Regions from separate parts of the Homo sapiens genome. Here region 1 is linked to region 2. The links come from fine-mapping of genetic effects on gene expression. Tissue or cell type: spleen. Region 2 holds a variant in brackets; the other region holds the start of a gene. All regions are shown on one strand. Distances are between the middles of the regions.

What was found. PIP is the estimated chance that this variant, and not a neighbour inherited with it, causes the effect.
Region 1: it holds the start of MAGEC3, and the variant in region 2 is fine-mapped to the expression of MAGEC3 in spleen (GTEx, PIP above 0.99).

The regions. Positions count from the first base shown.
Region 1 is chrX:141,833,321-141,844,747 of GRCh38, reverse strand. MAGEC3 (MAGE family member C3) reads right to left here and starts at 6,432. Exons shown (of 8, transcript NM_138702.1): 1 at 6,310-6,432. The coding sequence starts at 6,432.
Region 2 is chrX:141,873,355-141,884,781 of GRCh38, reverse strand. It overlaps MAGEC3 (MAGE family member C3), which reads right to left. Exons shown (of 8, transcript NM_138702.1): 3 at 5,351-5,607; 4 at 2,986-3,379. Among named protein-coding and RNA genes, the nearest start is that of MAGEC1, 25 kb to the left of the region's middle. The variant A/G (reference allele first, on the strand shown) is at 5,403.

The DNA.
Region 1 (11,427 bases), 40 kb after region 2:
TTTAAATTGGAAAGGAAAATAATCTGAAGAAATTATCTGGAATACTGCCTAATAAAAACAGAGATTAAATTATAAAAAATAAATTAAAAGATGTGGTGTATTGAGTGAGAAGGTCTCACATATATGTAACTAAAATCTCAATAGACTCTAGAAAATAGGAGTCAAGGAAATAGTCAAAGAGATAATTGATGTTTTTCCACAATTTTTGAAGACATTAAACTTCAAATACAGAAAGACCAACAAATTTTAAGTGAAATAAATGAAAACAAATGCACACCTAAACACATAACAGTGAAACAGCAGAATACCAAAGGCACACAGAAGATATTAAAAGAATTCAGAGGGAAAAGATAATTCACATATTGCAACTACACTGAGAGCTGACTTTTCAGCAAGGGAATGAGAAGGGATTAGGCCCACCAAGCTAAACTCATACGCCAAATTTAAATATTTTTCAAATGTGAGGGTGAAACAATGACATATTCAGACAATAGAAAGTTTGAAAATTTGCCACCAAGCAATGTAAGTGCCCACTGGAAGAATATTAATACATAGATTTTAGTGTATTCATAAAATGGAATGCTGTACATCAGTAAAACTAAGTGAACTATAATTGCACATATCCACAGGATTGAATTTCAAAAACATGATATCGGACGGAAAAGTGTCAGAATAACTTACACAGTATGACATGATACGTATAAGCTTCAAAATCAGGGACAACTGCAAAATATATTGTTGAGGGATATTAACATCATACACTCCAAAGAGAAGAGAAAGGGAATAAGTACTACAAAGTTCAACGTGGTGGCAATCCCTGGATAAGGGATGCGCTTGAGGAGAGCACATGGAAAGCTTTTTAATTTAATGGTAATATTATATTTCTTAAGACTTCTGAAGGTGTCTGTCTGCTTGTTTACATTGCACTTATATATACTCTTTTGAATATTTAAAATGAAAACAAACTAACATCAAAAACCCTATGGGGGCACGCTTGGTATGTGGGCAAGGCTTACTAATCAGAGGGATTTGCCTTTGATTATCTGGGTAGGGATTATGCTGGCAATCATCTAAATGGTATCAAAGTTTTTGCTCTTGAGTCATTCAATTTCTTAAGAGAATGTCTGATATTTCTTCTGGAGTTGTATACCTGCTTGAGGAGCATTCTGTTCATGGGGTGATATATAGTTTGAAGGAAGTTTATTTTTCCCTCACACGTATTCTTTAGAGAAGATGAGCTTTCTCTCCAGCTCAAGGTTGCTATAATTGGACAATGTATGCACAATAAACTTATTCAAGTCAGAAACAATACAAAAATATGTAGCTAGCCACTAATAAGGGAGTATATGGGTTGTCTAAATTAGCTGATAGCAAGTCATTCTTGTGCGCAGAGACAAAAAGATGTACTCCGGCCTAGTAGCTTCTATAACACAGGTTGATGGCCTTACTCCTGTAGAGTAAGGGACAGCCTGCAGAGGCTGTGAATTCATACATTAAACTCAGATCAACCCTCCAATCATATTTTTCTAACTACATAGCCTTGAAGCTGTTGTATGTATAAAGCTGGAATTTGTGTGTTTTCTGTTACTCTAATCATCTTGTGAACTAGAGACTGGCCATCATTCATTTACATGATAAAGCGTTTTATGAATAAATTGCCACATTTCTCTATGCCTCTGCAAATGCAGGTGCAATAAATTTCAAGAACGTAGATTTATTCTCAAAATTATAAATGACAGAGAAGAAGCAATAATTTAATGAACTCCACAATGTGTGTGTCAAACAAACCTGGCTCTTATAAGTGAAGTTAGAATGACTTTTGTTGCCACCTAGAGCAATAGCAATCAAAGGGAAAACATAAGACTTATAGTCTAATAAATGTAGAACTAACAATGTAGGAGCTAACAATGTTATATAGCTAACAATGTAGGAGAGATGAAGTGTTTTAGGGATGTTTATGAAGTCTAAGAGTGTAAATTGAGAGGTTTCATTCCCGGGTCTGCCAGTGATTCACTGTGTGGGCTAGAAGAAGTCACTTTCATGGGAGTAATTTAAGTCTTTATTTATATTTCCAGGGTGCGATACCTTGAGAGGAGAATCTACTTGTGGAATACATTAAACACAAAGAAAATCACAAAGGCCATGAATAAAAGGGGATGTATTTCTTTCTTGAACAAAGATGCCACCACTACCACTAACCTCTCCTTCTTGAACAAACGTGACAACACCTACCACTAACCTCTTCTGACATTTCATCACAAGTTCATTCCAAGTTATACAGGATGCTTAAAGTGTATTCAGCTTTGAATTGTTTTTAAAATATACGATAGTTAAAAGGCTACAGAGAATCTGGAAAAGTAAGAACAGACATCTGAAATTCCATAAAATCACTCAGCTGCTACTACAGTCTGTTATAATTTTCATTGTTTCATTGAAACAATGCAACAAAATCATTGAAACAAAAAATGAGCAAGTTTCATTCCTTGCTAGTTTTCATTGTTGCATACATCTTATAAAGTTGTACTTATATTTTATGCATAATGTTGTGTCGTGCCTTGTTAATTTATAACAAATAATTTAAGTTTATCTTAATATTATAATTTGTAATATAATTTTAATGGCTGCACAGCATTCAGTCAAGTAATTGTATGAACCAAGTACCAAAACACTACAGTTCATACTATTAAGCAATTTAAATATTCATACACTTCCAACTTTCTCAATACCTAATTATCACACTAGAAATATTTAGGCATTTTCGTGGCCCAAAAATAATACTTCTTTCAATACACATCATTTTAAACACACAGTTCGGTTAAGATCTTTCATACTGAAGCCCAAATAGAAGGATGTTTTATGAGTGTTCTGCGAGTCCTTCATGTGCCAGCAAATATGCTAATAGCAGTCCCTTTTCTCAAACAGATCACATCATATTGGAAAGTTAGCAAAATAGACTGAAAAGGAAGGGTACTATTTCAAAAGCCGTGAAGGGGCATCTAGAAGCAAACGGTCATCATTGACAAATGTTCCAGAGAGGTCAGGTAAGAGGCAAATTGATCAGTCCCAGTCAGTAAACAGATATTACTTGAATGCTTAATATGTGTCTACTAAGTCTCATTTAGGATCTGGTGGACAAGGCTGAGTCCCTTCCCTCAATAATATTTTATGCTAGTGGGGGCAGAAAGAAAATAAACACATAAACAAATATCTACAGTTGATTTCTTATTTTTTGACTTTTAGGTTCAAGGATATATGTGCAGGTTTGTTATATAGGTAAACTCTGTGTCATGGGGGTTTGGTGTACAGATTATTTCATCACCCAGGTAATATGTATAATAACTATAGATAGCTTTTTGATCAAGTACTAGGGACTATCAAGAATGTAAAATACGGCAATATGTTTGCGAATGTCATGAGATTTAACTCAGGTGGTCAGGAAATTCCTCTTTAAGAAGATGCAATTTGTTTGGAGACCTGAAATATCCAAAAGGAGTCTTTGGATTTGATAATTAAAATGGCTTTGATGGTCTTGCAAAGTACAGCTTTATTTGAGTGGTAGAGACAGGAGTCAGAGAGCACCAGGTTGAAGAAAGAGTGACTGGTAAGTAAGAAGAGACAGACAAGAAGCTTCACTCTTGTGAGGCTTAAGTGGAAAGAAAAGAAGAAAGAAGAAAAGAAGTGAGAAGGAAAAGCAGAGTGAAGTTATTATCACATTATTTTTTACAATTCACCTTTAAAGTGGTTCCTGATGCTTCCTCTTACTTAAATTTTTATTTAATATTAAACATATTTATAAACTATAGTTAATTAGCCAGTAGAAAGGCAGATGTTGAAAATACAGAAAAAAAAAGAAGCAGTGGAGCAAGGTCCATTCTCAATCCCCTTGAATAGAACAATTTATTCATTAACTATTTACTGAGCATTTTTGTGTTTGTTTTGTTTTTGTTCTTGTGGGGTTTTTTTTTTTGATGTGAAAAACACACAAAAGCATAACTACCCACTGACCAATTTTGCAGGAGGACTCATGCTAATGCTAATACATCAGGCTGAATTTTAGACAGAATGGTTGAAGAAAATAAATGCTGAACAGTCCACTTTAATATGGCAATTTAGTGAGGAGAGGCACTCTCTCCCATTTAGAGACACAAGAAAATATTGCTTCTGTGAAAATCTTCTTAACATGGAGATGTTAGTAATGATGCCAAATTTATGAAATGTTCTTAAAGAGGTCTGAACAAAGTTTGCTACATAGAACAAATTCAAAATAATATGTAATTATATGTTTTTCCAATATCATATACTTTTGAAAAATGCAAAATCTTGTGCTAAATGTAACTTTCACTTTCTTAAATCACTTTTATGTCAATATTCTTATGAAAATATTTCTTAAAATTAAATGATATTTTATGACCTGATATTCTCTACTTGTCATTTATTTAGATTGCAAGCTAAAAACTAATTAGAAAGACTATACTTTTGCTGTTAACTTTCTCAGAGGTAAAATATCACTTTTCTTTAGTGGTTTGTGATGCTATGAATGAATACTTTCCAGGTTGGGTATTTCCTGGCTGTTAAATATCAGTTAAGTTTTGGCTGACTTCACCTCCATCTATCAACCTCCCTGCCAATCATTTAACAGCTATAGAATAGGTCTCCTCACACAAATCCTTCAGGAAGAATTTCCATTGTGCACATTCTGACCAGAAGAAAAAATGCAGCAAATTTTTGGAAAGTGAATCATTTTTAGAGTTCTGAGCAAATTATGTTAAACTCAGGGTTTCTCACTGTCAGCACCATCACATTTTAGGCAGTATAATTCTTTCTTGTGTGAGGTCGTCCTTTGTCCAATAAGACGCTTAGAAGCATCTCTGTCTCTGCTTATTAAATACCAGTAGCATTCCCTGCTGCCACCAATTATGACAACCAACAATATTTCTAGATATTGGCAAGTATCCCCTAAGTGGCAAAATCTCTTCCAGTTAAGAACCACTGAGTTAAGAACAGTAAGTAATGATCCAGGGAAAATGGATATAAAGATATTAAAAAGCTAGTAAAGCATTTGACATATTAGAAATGCATATAAACAATTCATATTTATAAAATAAAATCTACTGAAGATATAATGAATAAACACTTGTTTTGGTGAGCAAGCTTGGGATTGCAGCTGTGGGCCTGGAAGTGGTAGGAGCTGCAAAGCCTGCCCAGGATTAGCTGTAGCCAGAGCCGGCAGCCAAGACAATAGCAAAGATCAATTTGACCTCAAGATATAATCAAATATGACAGCAGAGTGAATGAAGCTTTTATTTTGCTCCGTTCTTCTCCATAATCCTTCTTATGCCCATAATCATTATAATTACATAAAATATTTAAAAACCTTTAAAAATTATTTCTTGGAAACCATGAATATGGCAGACTAGAGGCATTTTGTACTCACTTTCTCCATTAAAAATAACCAAACGGTGAGTCGATAATCACACTTTGAATATATAATTCAAAGGAAATCACTGGAATCCATTAGAAAAGTGATAGGCAATACTTAAAGCAGAGATGGAGAGGGAATCAAGGCAGCCTGCTCATCCAGGATCAGCTGTGAGCTGAGAGACTCCAAATACAGAGAAAGGATAGGTGAGAGAGCCTCAGTAGTTTACATTCTCACTATAGACTCCTATAATCCCAGCCACAGGAGATCCCTTCAACCATCATGGGCCCCGAAACTAACATAGAAAGCTGCCAGGAGATTGTATGATGGCACTGCTTCAGGGAGAAAGCTCCCGCTGGGTCCCTCACACTTCTTGAGACTTAAGCAGCTACAACAAAGTACCATTTTAGAGCCCTGCCCTCAACAGACTGAGCACTGTCCTGGAGCCCAGTAGCCCAGGGCTGAGGTGCAAGAGAAGCACGAACTGCTGCCCCAGGGACATAGGCATCAGTGACTACAGACTACAGCATCTGGTGCAGAGGTGGGACGAAGGCGTGGGCTGCTGCTTTTAGGACTGAGGCACAAATGAGGCACCACTGCAGAGCCTCACCCCCGATGAACTACATACTGTCCTGGAGCCCAGTGGCATTGAGGCCTAGGTGCAAACTAAATGTCTGATGTTTCCCTGGAGATTCAGACATGAGCGACCACAGGCTACTGCAACCAAGGGAAAGACATGAACATCAAGGCTGGGCAAGATAGCATCTTAGAGCCTCACCCCCAACAGACTGCACACTGTCTTGGAGCCAAGCAACACTGAGGCTGAGATGCAAAAGAAGAGCTGGCTGTTAACCTGGGGCTTAGACATGAGCATTCATGGGCTACCACACCTGGGGCTGAGGTGGGAGCACCACTGGGGATAAGGCATATGTGGCACATGTGTTTTTCACCCACTGGCCTAGACTGCCATCACTGAAGGTGGCATCCAACACCCAGTGGCAGGGCAGCAGCATGGCCACTGCCACCCTGTCTTTACCAAAGAGATAGAGACCATAAAAAAGGAACGAACAGAAATTCTGGAGCCAAAGAATGCAGTGAATAAACTAAAAAATACACATGAAAGCTTCAACAATATACTCAATCATAACTGACTTATGTTAAGATCACATTTTGCTTGAAGACAGTTTTTTTTGAAATAACGCTGTCAGACAAAAATAAAGAAAAAAAGAAAATAATAAAATAAACCTTTGGAATCTATCTAACAACATAAAGTGACCAAATATAAAAATCACTGATAGCCCAGAAGGCAAAGAGAGAAAACATGTTTTCAAAGACCTATTTATTGAAATAATAGATGACACTTCCTAAGTCGAGCAAGACACTTAGACATTGAGATACAGGAGGCCCATCAATTCCTAAACAGATACAATGTGAAAAGGTCTCTTCCATAGCACATTACAGACAAAATATTTAAAGTTTTTTTTTTCTTTTTTTCCAAGATGGCAGATTGGAAGCATTATAAGCATACTTATCCCACTTGGTAAGACAAAATGGCATGTAGAGATTCATGCTGTAAAATTTATTCGAAGAAACAATGTAAGAACTTAACAGAAAAACTGAAAGAAACCACAGACCCTTTGAATGAAGTGGCAGGCAACAGACTACATCATAAAACAGATGGAAAACCATTAGTCCCCAGAGCATGAGAGAGGGATAGATTGCTGTCATGACATATACTCCCACAGGCGAGCCAGGCAATACAAGTCATGAGGGAGGACTTCAAACCTACTCAGCTCTAGAGGTGATTCAGTGAAAAGTAAGGAATATATAAGAAGGAGCAGCATCGGGACATGCTTTGTGTGCAGACCCAGATTCCAGCAAGAATGGAGGGAAGCCATTCCTGATCCCACCTCACGGGACGTTGCAGAAGTCTAACTCAGGCTGCAGTCACAGTTTGAGAGAAGAGCCCAACTGGGATTTGTGATATAATCCTTAGTAAGGACAAAGCTGATTGGCCAGAACCGAGGGGCAAGTGAGAAGTGTGCTACGGCAACAAGGCACATGAGCTGCATGGCCCTGCTTCACAGGTGGACTGGAAAGGATGCAGCCTGAAAGATATGGTTTCTGTGTCCATAGGGAAAGCTTATGGCCTGGGATGGTTTTAAATTCTGAGCACGGGCCACTTGAAACCCAGTTAGCTGCTGCTGCTAGCAGAACACTGTGGGTATGAAAACTGACTTGCCAAGTGTGTGGGAGCTGAGTGGGGCTTATTACAACCTGCTGCCTCCCACTTTTCAGGCAGATTTTTTGTGCAGCAGAGGCAGCTGTGTTCCTGCCTGGAACATTACCCCACCAGCCAGGGAACTGCCCTCGGATCCCCACTGGGGCCACTGCTTGCACCTGCACATGGGGAGCCAGAGTGCAGACTTGCCTGACTCAGTTTAATAACTTCTGAGGCACAATGAAATCATCCCAATGCCTCCATGTTCAATTTCAGGCACTAACAAGTCCCTGAGGTATTAAATGCATTGCTTTTCTGCGGTCTTGCCACCTTCAGGAGCTTACTAAGAAAATGAAGAAGAGCCACGATCACTCCTCTCAATTAGCCTCTTCCCTTGGCTGAGAAATGTGTTTCCGGTCTTGAGAACACAGAAGTTTTGCATTTGCTCATGAGAGATCTGAAACCTTCTGACACTGCCCTGCATCTTTTCCATTCCCTCTAAATAGAGAAGACTCTTCTCCTGTCTCCTACCTTCTGCTCTGACATCCATTCACTAACACCTAGGCACAAAAAGCCTAGTTCACCCAATGGCAGAAACGGCTAAGGTGGGCCTCTTCCAAGCTATGAACAACATTTCAAAGCTTAAGTCCCTACCCTCTTCCAACACAATGTCCTTTTCATTCCTCTAGCTCAGTAGTGCTCAGATTGGGGGTGATTTTGCACCCCATCCCAAGAAGACATTTTGCAGTCTGGAAATATTTTTGGTTGTCACAACTGGGATGGCTCTTGGTGCTATCGGCATCTATTGAATAGAAACTAGGAATGCTGCTAATCATTCTAAATTCAGCAAGATGACACCCCCTCAAAAAAGCCCACAGAACTATCTGTCTCAAAATGTCAATAGTAATAAAGGTGAAAAACCCTGTAGCTCATTCCTTAATAGGCCACCCAAAGAGATTTTGGATGTTTTCATTTATAAAATTATGCATATATTTTGGCAAATCAACAGCTGTTTCTCACCACTGATGGTTAGACAAGGGAAAGAATAAGGAGACTGATATTATAATGAGCTCATTCTATGCCAGGTACAGTGCTCAATACTTCAGATTTATATTATCACATTTAATCTGTTAAAAATGTCCCAACATGTAGTAACAAGAGTTATTTTTATTTTACAAAGTTAAAAGAAAACTGAATTTTGAACAAATTGAAAGATCGATTCAGATTACAGCATCTGTAAATGGCAGAGCAGAAACTTACTATTAATGATCGCATGGCTTCAGAGCTGATGCCAGCCATCTCAATCTCACAAAGATCTCCGCATTCACTCATCTTTTACCCTCAAGCATTGTCTTACGTAGACATTCCTGACTTATTCCAATGGAAAGTCAAAAACAGAAATTTGATATTCAACAAGGAATATTATGTAGGATTTTGCTGTTGTTTCCTGAAAATTTTTCAATATACTGAATAAGCTATGGGAAAGCAAGCGGAAATAGTGTTGGCTTATAAAACCTCTCACCCTGTGACTAACCAAAATGAACAGAAAGGATTCATCAATGCTGAAACTTGAAACAAAACTGAGTCTTAATCAATATAATTCTTGAGGTATGATTCAGATCCAGTATAATTTGGCCCAGATTGAAAGAAGACTCAAAAATCAATATATAACCCCTATCACTACCTTGGTCCAGATATTCCAATTTGAAGAAGCAAGGAAATTAGACTTGAGCAGATCTGGAGGAAGTGTAGGCTGCACTGTGTGGAGCTTGTTTCTCCACTGCAAATAAGCATTCCTGAGAAACTAAATGCTGGACAAGATGCAAAGCCATACAACCGATGTGATTGCCTCCCTAACTACCTGCCAACCTGTAGTTTATCTTCCTTCTAAACAGACAGAATATCAGAGAGAAGTAGAAGCAATCTCTTGAGAATCATAGCCACAGCCTTCTGCACAGAAAAATACATAGGGTCAAACAAAACAAAAACCTCAACAACCCTGGACTTTTTATGAAAATGAATTTCTCACTTTGAGAGGGAGTAAACTGAAACACAAAAAGGCCATTCTTCACCAACAGATGAGAGCATGCCCCCAACACGGTGCTGCTGATGCCAGTGCATAGGAGCCAAAAAATCAAACTGAGCAACTAAGAAACAAACCAACAACTAAGAAAAAAACTTCCTGACTGCAACTACTCACAGCCCCAGATATCTCCTCACTGTCCCCCAAGCCCCCTGTTCCCATAAAGGAGCTAAATGACTGAACAAAGAATAAAAACAATAAATGTGCAAATTGTTCGGTGCATGTTTCAAGGCATTGGTCCAAAAAAATATGCAGACCAGTTCTGGAAGTTGGGCTAAAAAAGACAGATTCTGAAGCTGCAACTGGAAGATTTCTTTAGTAGGTCTGGAGGGGTGATTGATGCTCTGTACTTTTTCACATCCATGTTTGAGAACCACTGTTCAAAGTGGAGAGAGAGGGTTAAGTCAAAGATTTTCCTAGAACAGAGATATCAAGGAAAACGTATTCATCTATTTTTGGCAGTGGGGACAATCCATGGCCCCAATTCAAAATAAACGAGAAGAAAAACAAATAATAACAGCATAGCACCAATATGTAAAATGCTCTATAACATAGAAGGGAAGAGAACAGGAATACAGCAAGCAAAGACAACTAGCTAAGTAGTATTTGTTGCCAGGTTCTGCAGTAGTGGCTGAAGAACAAAAGTGACCACAGATATTTAACAAGTGGAGAAACTAAAAAATAACTCTAAAATCAATAGGAAACAATAAGGAACATAATCAACCCTATAAAAAATTTAGTAATTTAAAGTATAGGCTTGGGAAACATTAAAACTACACAGGAAATGAAGAGATTTTATAAATATATAGATGTATTCATAAAAACATATTTTCATAAATATGTGAAAACAGATCCAACGTTAGGATCACTGTTTTGGAATTAGGCTTACTCACTGTGGGACTGATTTTGGGAAGAAGTAATCATTTCTTCACTTTAACTTATTGTAATTTTGGCCTTAAGAACTAGCCAAAACTTATTTTGAATGTAGCTTTAACAAGAAATATTTATGTGACCCTGTCTCAATGTTTGACTCTTCTCGACTTCAGCTTTGTGCCCTGCAAATTGAAGATAAAATACGTTCCTGTCTCGCAAAGTGGTTGTGGGAGTTTTATAAATCCCTGAGAAAATACAAAGAAGGTTTCAAGCATCAGATGTGGCTATTAATATTTCATAGAGAAGAATTTAAAGAAACTCTTGTGGCTCTAAAAGTGGTATCTGAAAATTTTAAATTGAATGTGCATTTTAAAAATATAAAACAAAAACTTAGCAGAATAAAAATTAGTTGAGATCTTTGGTATTCTTCAGATAAGAAATGAAACAAAACAGGCTAAATAAAATCAGAGAAAAAAACTTAATGTGATGACACACGAGAACAAATATGTAAGTCAAATCAGCTCCCCACTTAATGAGAAGACTCATAGACAAATTAATGATAATAACCAATAGCATTATATTTATACAAACAAACACAAAACTTCCAAAGCAATGTGACTCAGAAAAGTTGAAAGTAAAAATTTTTGACTGAAATTTACCAGATGATATAAACAAAAATGGGAACAGACACCTATTCCTTTAAAAGGCAAAATTTGGAAATGGCACATCTCAACTCACAACTCATTAGAACTCAGTCACATGGCCAAGTGGAGTTGCAAAAGAAGCTGGGAAATGTAGTCTGGTCATTCACGCACCCAGCTAAACATCAAG
Region 2 (11,427 bases):
TATTAAATATAGGGTCACTAAACTTTTTTCTCACAAGCAGTTAATCAGGAGTGTCAAATGCATTTATTTTGCATAATTCTCTAAACAGTTCACGCCAAAGGCTATCGGTGTTCTCCACGCCATTAGAATTAGAGTCCTTAGCATTTTTGGGTCTAATCACATTAAGCATCCAACTCCAGAAACCCCAAAACCAATGAAAGACCTCCATCCTTAATATTCTGTTTCTCTAGAACCACTCCTGGTACAAAAATCTGTATTACTCAGGGTTCTCTAGAGGGACAGAACTAATAGGATAGAGGTATATATAAAGGGGAGTGTATTATGGAGTTTATTAACTCCCATGATCGTGAGGTCCCACAATAGGCCATCTGCAAGCTGAGGAGCAAGGAAGCCAGTCCGAGTCCCAATGCTGAAGAACTTGGAGTCTGATGTTAGAGGGCAGGAAGCATCCAGCACAGGAAAAAAAAGTGTAGGCTGGGAGGCTAAGCCAGTCTAGCCTTTTTACATTCTTCTGCCTGCTTTTTATTCTGGTCCTACTGGCAGCTGATTAGATTGTGCCCATGCAGATTAAGGGTGGACCTGCCTTTCCCAGCCCACTGACTCAAATGTTAACCTCCTTTGGCAACACCCTCACAGACAAACCCAGGAACAATACTTGCATCCTTCAATCCAATCAAGTTGACACTCAGTATTAACCATCACACAATACAATCTCTTTAGACTGAGAATTCTCTCACTGCTTTTGGTATACGGTAAATATCCTACCATGAGAGATTCTAATACCCTCTACATGACTGAACATTCCTGAACAGCTGTACATGTGCCTGTGGCACACTGCAAACCAAGATTTTCCTGTGGGGCAGGTACACAGAAAAGAGACAATGGAAGGATGGTTAACCATAATTTTCTTTTCTCATCAGAGCTAGCCTGTCTGTCAAGGAACACTTGTCACCTTCTAAGCAGTATTAAGGATTTTGTTATTGTTCTGTTTTTAGAAATTCAGCTCCTTGTAATTTATTTACAAAGTGATTTCCAAAATTTTATCTCATATACCAAGTTTATGAAGGAAGCTTTGCTTTTTGACCACCTGGTATAGCTCATTCATCTGTGTATCTCTTCAGTGGCCTGCTTCAAACAATGTTACTACAAATATCATATATTAAAATCCCAATACAAATATCAAATATTAGGATGATCTCAAAAACTCTATCTCTTACCCTAAGATTACATCCCTAGAACCAGTATATTATGTGGCAAATCAGATTCTACTCACCACCCTATGTGGGAGTATTTTGAGAGTGTTTGAAGATGCCCAGGATAGATATGGAATTGTCACTATCCAAACTGAAAATTTACATCAAAGTGCTGAATTTGAATCAAGGACCAACTCCTTTTCACCTTCCCCTTTGCTCATCCATCCAAACAACTATTTCTATTTATCCTCCACTAAAAATCTAGCCCTTGCTTACAGTTGCCCACATTACATTTAAAATAACCTAATTAAATGACCTTTCAATGGAATGGACTCTGGCTCTCCCAGGCTAGGAAAATGAGTGCCAGCCTAGAAGCTTCTGGGCAGCATTTCAAGGAATTATCGCCTTATTTCTCAGGAAACACTTGCAAATGATGGGTATCAATCACCTAGTCCTTGCACTGTGTTCAAGCTCACCAGTTAGAGAGCTGCAAGACAGCTTCCATTACTTCCCCACATGGAGACTCCTCTCTCCCTCATCATCCACCCAGAAGGAACTGCTCAGAGCAGTTTTCCATTGCAGGCTTTTCTCTCACCTTCTGAGAGTCTGGCCCCTGCCACCACCCAGCTTCATAACAATCAGCTCCCACAGAAGCACCTGCAGTTTCCCGAAGCCCCACACTACCTTAGCTCAGGGACTTTATACTTGAAGACTCCATCTGGAGTCTCACCTCCCCACTTTTTTGAAACTTATGATTGTAGAGAGCATCTTACCACCTTCTTGACATGGCTTCTGCTCCTAGACTCTATTGTTTTATAGGTAAGGCATAACTCTTGCTTTTCACTGTATCCCCACTATTAAGAGTCCCCTCCGCAAGCAAATGCTCACAGAATGTTAGGCAAATAAAGCCGTCAGAGATGCTTTTATTTATTAACATTTAATTTCTGCTACTTTCTTGAATGAGCTAAGCAAAGCCAGGTCTATTTCTTTAATTTTCAAGAACAACAGTATAAACGGGATAAGGAAATGTAACTATTCACCATCCTTTATTTCGTTCCACTATTTAACTGCTGAGTTCTTACATAATTTAAAGAAAATTCCTAGTACAATACCATGTTATCCTGTTATAGATCACAAAATAAGAGACAAGCTTTTTCCATTTTTTTTTACAAAATATCAAACTGTTACTCTTAAACTAGATAAACAGCAATATATGTGTGACTAATATTTATAAAATAATATTCTGAAGCTAATTCAACCTACTATTAAAAGGAAAATCATTCAAAAAGTACACAAAAGGAAACGAGGTAAATCTATCTCTCCCATATGGAACAGAAATGCAAAGAACACTGTATTGTTCCCTCAAGCCCCACCCGGGCCCTCCACTACCTAGGACCCTGACTGCCCTCTTCAAACACAGACGTAAGAAACGGCCCTATACTTCACTCAGGACAGGAGAAGTTTCTGGAGATGACACGGAACCTTGCACTGGCCATGGCAGTAGCATCATTTTTGGTGTCAATTATGGCCTGGGCTCTGTCTTCCACATCTTTCAAAGCATCCTTGGAAGAGATTGGAAAGGAACTAGAGACGGTATTGTTTCACATGACCAAAATCTCACTACTTTCCTCTTGCTAGTTTCTGAATGGGCTCTAGGACCCCACAGGAATTCATAACGTGGAGGAGCACTACTGGGCACATGTCGCTACTCCAGGTAATGTCCCTGCACTCAAACTTTAGTGACAAGCTCCCTGGGCTCCCGATAGACGAAATGCTCCCTCTGAGCACACACCCCTATTGCATTCAGCACTTCCCAGATGACCTCCTCAGATGCACAGTTGCCCTTTATGAAGATCACACTCAGAATAAGAATCAGGAGGCGGTTCTGGGGCATGCCCTGCTCATCACTCAGACTCCCCTCACAGGTGAGGTCTAATGTGTTTACAAAGACATAGAAATGGTCGGGGTCCACTTCTGTCAGGGAAATGCCAAAAAGAATCTCTATGAACTCACGGGCTTTCCTGAAGATCATAGGAAAGTAGCCCGTGTATGTGTTGATGACATTCATCTGCATCTCTGCTCTTGTGAGAGGCTCTTTTGCTTGATATTTGAGGAGAAGAAACTGCACCAACTTGTCCACCTTTTCATCCAGTGTATAAGTGAACAAGGGCTCGCTCTCTGGCAAGCTGTGCCAGGTACTTGTATCTTCATCTTATTGGCTGCTAGGCTCTTCATTGAATGGGCTTCATAAAGTGGAGGAGGAGCAGGACAGGGAACCCTGGAGAGGACCCTGGGGAGGACTCTCAGGAGGATTCTGGGGAAGAGGCAGCATCCCAGCAGACAGCTACTCCTCCTCCTCCTCATGAGCACCAAGAATCAGAGTAGAGGATGAGGAGGAGGAGGAGGAGGAAGAGGAGAAAGAGGAGGAGAAGGAGGAAGAAGAGAAGGAAGAGGAGGGGAATAATAAGTAGAAAGAGGAAGAGGAAATGGAGGAGGTTTTCTCCTCTTCCTCCTCTGTGGAATCCTGTGCATCTGCCAAGTTCTCTATCACAGTTTGGTTCTGGAAGTCTTTCTCAAAGTTGCCGCTAGGAACATTTCAAAACACAGGCATAACGTCTTCCTTAGGAGCAGGAGGTAAATGTGTGAGCAGGGATGTGGATGATGGCATCCAACAGGCCTGAGGGAGAGAGGGACACTGCAAGTGGCCTCAGCTGAGAAACTCACCCATGGTGGTTCTGACAAAGGCCGGCTTACAGCTCTTCTTCTCTTAAGGTGGTGCTCTAGGGCCTCACGGGTCACCTGCCATCCTAGGGGGTTTGTCCCCTGGGAACCTGTAGGAGGATGTGAGAAAGCACCTCGGGGCACAGCTGGCAGGCAGAGCCTGAGGCACCAGGAATGGCAGTAGGTGGCTATGGCCAGGTGCTGCCAGGTCTGCTCTGTTTGTGGGGGTAGGGCCCTTGGTACACAGTCAGGGCGTGCACTCACCTTGACTCCTGATATTGCCTGGGCCTCCTCTGCTGTGCTGACTTTAGGAAGTGTGCCTCAGACCCAGGTCTTCAACTCCTGGTTCCTGGAGCACCTGCAAGAGGAAGTGAGGGAGCCCCTCAGGCTAAAGACTGCAAGCAGAGTCTTGGGCCTCCCAAGGCTGACAGCTGGGGCTGACCAGACTCCCAGAGCCCCACAGTTCTGGACTGCATGGTCCCATCAGAATTTAATTAGCATCCTCACCTTTTCTCAGACAGGGCCATGTCCCTACCACTCTTCTAGCCAAAACTCAGGGCAAACTCCACATCCCTGAGAGCAGTGGGAGGTAGTGAGGTGGCAGCCACCTCCCAGCACTCTACCACGGGGGCAGTTGGGCTGGCCTCACATCTGTTCTGATGCACATGTGACTCCTCAGTCCTCACTCTTATCCCCAGCAGGGCCTGGGAATCTTCCCTCTGCCAACTGGAGGCAGCTCCCTGTGCTGATTTGCCACGGGACCCTCAGACCAAGGCCTTCCCTTTCCCTGCACCTCTCACCCAGCAATGAGAGGGCTGCCGCTCAGCCTGAGCTGACTGGGGAGCTCTACGAGGGCTGATATGGAGGAGCATGCTGGGAATCTCTGGGAGTCTGTCCTCTGAGGTGGCGTTTCCCCTTGTCCTTCTCAAAGTCTTCCTATTTATTCCCTAGAGAGCTGGCACCTCCTCCCTTCTTCTGTCATGAAGACGTGTCCCTCAGCCCTCGGTTACCCTCTTCCTGTCTGCGACCTACAATCTCACAGCAGGTAGAGGGCAGGCAAGAGCTTCTTCTTTCTGTGGTGGGAGGTCCCTCAGTTCTCCCTTAGGGCCCTTACCTTGAGGATCGGCCAGTTCTAAGAGTCTTCTGTCTGCTGATCTCAATTAAGCCTTCTCACAAAATGCCTCAAATACTTCAGACTCCCAGTGGGGCTAGGTCTCCTCTCTATGGAGGAACCACCCCTCACCTCTCTACCTCTTTCCCACACTTTCCTGACCACCTCCCGGCCCTTCTCCACCCCTTCCTGCCCATCTCCTGGGCCCCCTCCACCCCTTCCTGCCTACCTCCCCGACCCTTTCCACCCCTTCCTGCCCACCTCTCGGTATCCCTCCACCTTTTCCTCCTCACTTCAAAGCCCTCGTCCATATTTCCCTGCCCACCTCCCCGCTTTCTCCCCCCACAACCTTTTTCCAGGGCTGACGGCAGGAAGGG[A/G]AAGGGTGTAGCCTGTGCCTCTCCTCCATGTTGGAAGGTCACTGTCCTTCCACAGAGTTCTCTTCTCGTTGAGTGGCCAGTCCTGGGGTTCCTCCCTCTGCTTAACTGAAACTGCCCTCCTCAGAGAAAACTTCCCCTCCGGCTGACTCCCAAAATGCAAGTCAGAAAGTTGTAAACCTGGGGACCCTGATAGGGTCCTCCAGAGCTGGCAGCAGGCACAGGGACAGGGGAGGGGCACTACCAGTCATGGGTGTTCCCTTCCTGCCTTCCCGAGAGGCTGTGCCTGGACTCCTGGAAACCGCCTGGCCTTCCTGCCTCTGTGCAACTGAGTCTTTCACCTCCGAATAAGCCCCTCCCATCCCTGAGACCTGCAAGGTGCAAGAGAGGGAGAATCACATCCACCCACAGTGGGGTGGGGCCTCCCAGGCCCAAGGCAGGACTCTGGTGTCCTTTTTCTAAAATGGGGTGGGCAGGACTCTCTGTTTTCCTGCAGTTATTATTCCTGACATGGCCTGGGAGCCCTTCCCCTGCTGTCCAGAGACTATGTTCTTCAGATCAAGGTCCCCATTTCCATGAGACGCCCCCCAAGACGAAGTGAAAAGCGCTAGCATCTCTGACTGAGGGCCCTGCCCAAGGCCTCCCAGGGGTGAAAACAGGGCCTGGATTTGTGTGTCCTTCTGTTTCTTGGGAGGGGTGTCTCACCAGTCCTTCCTCTGTGTCATCCTGGGGATGCCTGGAAGGGCCTGAGTCCCTTCACCTCTCATGATCTGAAGTGAGACTCACCTAGGCAGAGCCTTCTCCTCTTTCTACCCTCTAAAATGTCAGGGGGACACCACAGTGGGCCACCATGCCCCAGGGCCTCCCAGGGCTGACAGCAGCAGTGGAGCTGGATTCTGTGGATCCTTCTCTTTGTGGGCAGGGAGTCTTGCAGTTATCTCTCAGAGGCTTCATGTGACTACTGGCTGGTCCTGGGTCTCCCTGTTCTTCTCATGATGACAGTATAACATACGGCAAAAAATAATGTAATTTTACCCTGAATAAAGCTAAAAAGCACGATGATGCCATGGTAATCAAGTTAACATCATCAGTGACAAATTTTGTTGGTACTATGTGCTGTCGGTATGATAAGAACGGCACTTCACCTCTCTGTTCATCCTTCCAGGAAACATTACCTACATCAAATCATGACAGAAAAAAATCACATAAATCCCAGTCAAAGTCAATTTTACAAAATACCTAACCATACGAAACTGTCAAAACTGTCAATGTTTTCAAAATCGAGAAATGTCTCAATCAACCGGTACAGCCAAAGGGCATCGAAGGAACATGATAACTAAATGTAATGGAGTATCCTTAGGGGATCCTGGCATAGAAAATAGAATTTCGTGAAAAGTAAGAAAATGTGACTGAAGTATGTTCAATAATAAATAAAGAATGTTTGTTAAAAACAATGTACAAATACTGGCTCATTAGTTTTAGGAAACCTTACCAAGGTAAGGTGTTAATAACAGGAGGCATTGAGTGTGGAACATATGAGAACTTTCTTACTATTGTTATAATTTTCTTGTAAATCTAAAATTATTTAAACATAAAGTTTATCAAATATGAAAAATGTTACCAAACTAGATAAAAGGATATGCATGAAAAACCTACAACAGATACATCTTTTAAGGAAATGTTGGAAGCCTCTAGTTTGAACTTGAGACCTAACCTAGAGTTTCTGCTACAAGTACTTCTATTACTTTTTATACTAGAGGTAGTAGCCAGTGTAGTAATCCAAAGAGCAGTAAATGAAGGAATGAGGATTGGCCAGTTGGAAACAAAGCGTTTGTGATTCATGCATGATTAGACTGTGCATGAAAAGAATCCAAAACAACTAAAGATAATTTATTCAATATATAATAGTATATCAGTTTGCTAGTATAAGGTCAATATTCAAAAGAATATCAACTTCGTTTTTTGTCAGGGAAAGAGTATGAAAATGAAAGTAAAGACTATATAATTTTAACCTATAGTACCAAAATATCAAGTATCTTAGGAAAATAATTTAACCAAAAACATTTTAACCAAATAAGACTGGGAGGCAGCTGATGGCTGGTTAAAATATTTTTTGGTTAAAAAAGCTTAACCAAAAAATTTTTACAGACAAAAATATTAAAATGCTGTTGAGGCATATTAACAAAGACCTACCTGAACATAAAATAAAATAAATTCATGGGCATGAAGATTCAATATTTTAAATATGTTGATTCTTCCCAAAAAGGAATCTACAGATCGACTGCAATCCTAAATCAAAACTGCCAAAGGGCTTTGGACATGAAGGCATGTGTGAATCACCTGATTCTAAAATATAAAGACATGCAAATGGACAAGCATAGTCAATATACACTTGAAAAAGAGTCATTAGTCTACCAGACAGTAAGAATTACAAAGCTACTATAATGAAGAGTTTGAGATTTGGGTGCAGAGATTGACAGATAGACCAAAGGAACTGAATGGAGAGTTCTGAAAAACAAAACCAACAAAACATGTATAAACATGTGCTTAACTGATTTTTAAAACTTGCAGCTTTAGAACAGGAGACAGTCTTCTTGAAATAAGTGTCAGTGGAACAACAGAATATCCATACAAAAACCCTAATGTAAGTGGAACCCTTTTTCATATTAAACAGAAAAAACAATTACAGGGAAATTCAAAACCTACCTTAAAATATGTTTATTATAAAAAACCTCAGAAATACACAGACATTCTTAGAATAATAAGTCTTTGTATAAATTATCTTTAAGCAAGTTCGCAGTATGAGTAAATTAGAGCATCTGTAAGGCTGGATTTGAAAGCACTGAAAGAGGCTGGGGTCTTTGGTCACTTCAGTACCAGGGAGAAGTAAGATAAGAGTCAAAGAGGAGCACAGGAAATAGCAGCTACTTCTGCCCCCTTGTCTCAGCCATAAAAGGCCTGACTGCTTTCATGAACCTTTGCTTCCTGAGAGCAGGACTTGAAATCTCAATAGTGGCTGGGGGAAGGCTACCTGGGACAACTTTGCATTAATTCCCTCTTACTTGGCCAGTCCTCCTGCTGACCTCTGGAACTCTGGGGGTCCAAGAAATATAATGTGAGCAGTTCTACTCCAGAAAGTCATGAATGGGGGATGTTGTGTTGATGACAGAAACCTGACCAGGTCCACAAATACTTTACTGACTTAAGAGGCAGTGCCAGTTTGCCCAAATGTGATGGGAATAGAGGTTTATTTTCCTCTCCACATAGATAGGAGATTCACATACTTCCTTTCAGCTGTTCTTACTCCTGACAGGACCCTCAGCAGGATTCAGGAACCCTGAGATTCCAAAAAAGGCTGACTTGTGGCTTTGCCAGAGACTTCCCTGAGGGTTGGGGCCCTCTTCATTGACTATGGCCAGGATCAACTCAGCCGTTCATGAGCTGACTTCCTTCTTCAGCTTTGGCTCAGTGTCCCGGGGCAGTGGGACTCTGCTCATAGCCAGGATTGGTGGACCAAACCTCAGCGCTCAAGGTGGAAACCCACAGACAAGGAAGCTCTTCTCCTAGACTGGGAGGCAGCTGGTGGGTAAATTCCAGCTCTGGTCCCATGCCCTCGGGAATTATCTTCATGGAGTTGTTCTTCTGAGGTCCCAAGAAGGGAGCATTTCTTATGGATGATAAAAAGAAAATGGAAACCTATTCTTTTACCTCCTGGTATTGGAAATAAGTCTCCTGTCCAGAAGAGAGAGGGACTAACGTTCTTGGGATTCAATCAATGGGGAGTGTCAGGGACCTTTTAAAGGAGTGAACACAACCATTTTCCAAACATGCCCCAAATGACTCACCTTCAGTTCCTTATTCTCACGTAGATTCAGCCTTCAAAGAACATGCTGCCTCTGTCACCGAAGATTTACCATAGTTGCCATGAATATAGATGTTTTGCGCACAGGTTTGGGGGAGGGGAGGGCATTCCCTGAGTTCAAGGAAGAAGGAGCATTTGTGTGTGGTTCAGAGAAGTTATAAAATAAACATGAGGGCTGACAACTTATTAAAAAATAATAGCTCAATGTGACTTTTTTGCTATAGGTGGCACATGTTTTGATATACTTGATGCCTCCCTTTCTCTCAATTTTTATCAAATCCAACAGCAGCATTTGTTACCCCAACCTCTAAAACCCATGTGAAGTCCCTCCACTTCAATTGATCTCCATTACTACCTCTGTGGTTCATCTCTCACCTAGACTAAGACAAACCCTCTTTTGCTGGTGCCTCTCCTTTCACATTCAGTCCTGTAAAATCCATTCTTTTCTCAGCATCCTTTTGAAAACCCAATGCATGGCTGATTTTTAAAACTTTGTATAGATCAGCGTTCACTATAATGAACATTTTTATTTATCATAGCAAATATAGAGTCTTACATCTACCACTAAAATGTCATAGAGATCCCTTCTTTTAGCCTAAAATTTCTCTTGCTTCACCTTGATAGTCAACCACCACCCCCTACCCAAATCACAGCAAAAACAGTGTGTTTAGTGTGTTTTCTTTATCTACTTTTTTTTTTTTTACCATTTCCAGATTTAAAATGCATAGAATAATACAATTCTGTTTCTAGAGTGAGTGTATTTTTTTTTCAAATTAAAATCAGCAATGACTGAGGGTACCTGTTCTTCAGCCTCCTGTTGAGTGTTTGAAATTTTCAGGCATTTTGATTTTAGCCACTCTAAAAGATGTGTAGTGGTATCCTGTTTTACTTTGTAATTCCCTAGTGACATAAGATGCTAATCATCTTTTTACATGATTATTTGCAATGTGTATATATTCTTTGGTGTAGTGTGTATCTACTCAGATCTTTTGTCCATTTTTATTGGATTGCTTTCTTGTTATTGAGTTGAGGGTTCTGAATATATTTTTGATACACATCTTCAGTCAGATTTTTTTTGCAAAACTTTTATCCTCGTTTCTCGTTTTTCCTTTTTGTTCTCTTAACAGAATTTTTTCATTTTTATGAAGCCAAACTTATCAATTTTTTCTTTCACAGATGTTCCTTTTTGGGTTGTATCTAAGAAGTTTTCTCGAACCATAGTTACTTAGGTTTTCCCCTGTGGTATCTTCTATGTGTTTCATAGGTTTTTTAAAATTTTATTTTCACATTTAGGTCTGTGATTGAATTTATGTGAGCTTTTGTGAAGAGTTTAAGGTCTGTGCCTAACTTCATTTTCTCCATGTGGATGTCCACTTGTTCTGGTATAATTAGCTGAAAAGATTATTCTTAATTTAAATGCCTCTGATTCCTTGTCAAAAGTTGGTTGACTATATTTCTGTAGGTCTATTTCTGGGATGTCTATTGCATTTCTTTGACTTTTTTGTCTATTATTTCTTTAATATCACACTGTCTTAATTATCGTAACTTTATAGTAAGACCTGAAGTTGGGAAGTGTTAGTCTTCCCACTGTCTTCTTCTTTAATATTGTGTTGGCTAATCTTAGTCTTTTGCCTTTCCACATAAAACATATTTTAGTCCTTAAAATAAGTTTGTTGGTATCCACAAAACAACATGCTAGGATTTTGACTGGGATTTTAGGCAATCTATAGATCAAGTTAGAATTGACATCTTGACAATAATGAGTCTTTCTATCCTTGAAAATTGAATATCCCTTCATTCCATTCATTAGAGTCTTATAGTTTTCTTTATACAGACCTTGTGCCTACTGTGTTAGGTTTCTAAAACAATTTTTAAAAAGACAGTGAAGTTGGAGGAATCACACAACCCAATTATATTATTTACTATTGACAGAGCAGGAGCACTGTCATCTTGGACAAACATCGCCACTTTAAGTTCCAGCTCCCTTTCTAGCCTCATGCATTTCAAGGAAATCACTTCTCTTTTGACAACAAGCAGCCAGAAAGAGCAGACAGTAAAACACAGATAAAACAGCTTGGGTATGGGTGTTGGGGTGGTGGTGGAGGAGGTGGGAGTATCTTAGGTAACTGCCAAACTTCACCCTCATACAATGGGCCCCAGTAAAAC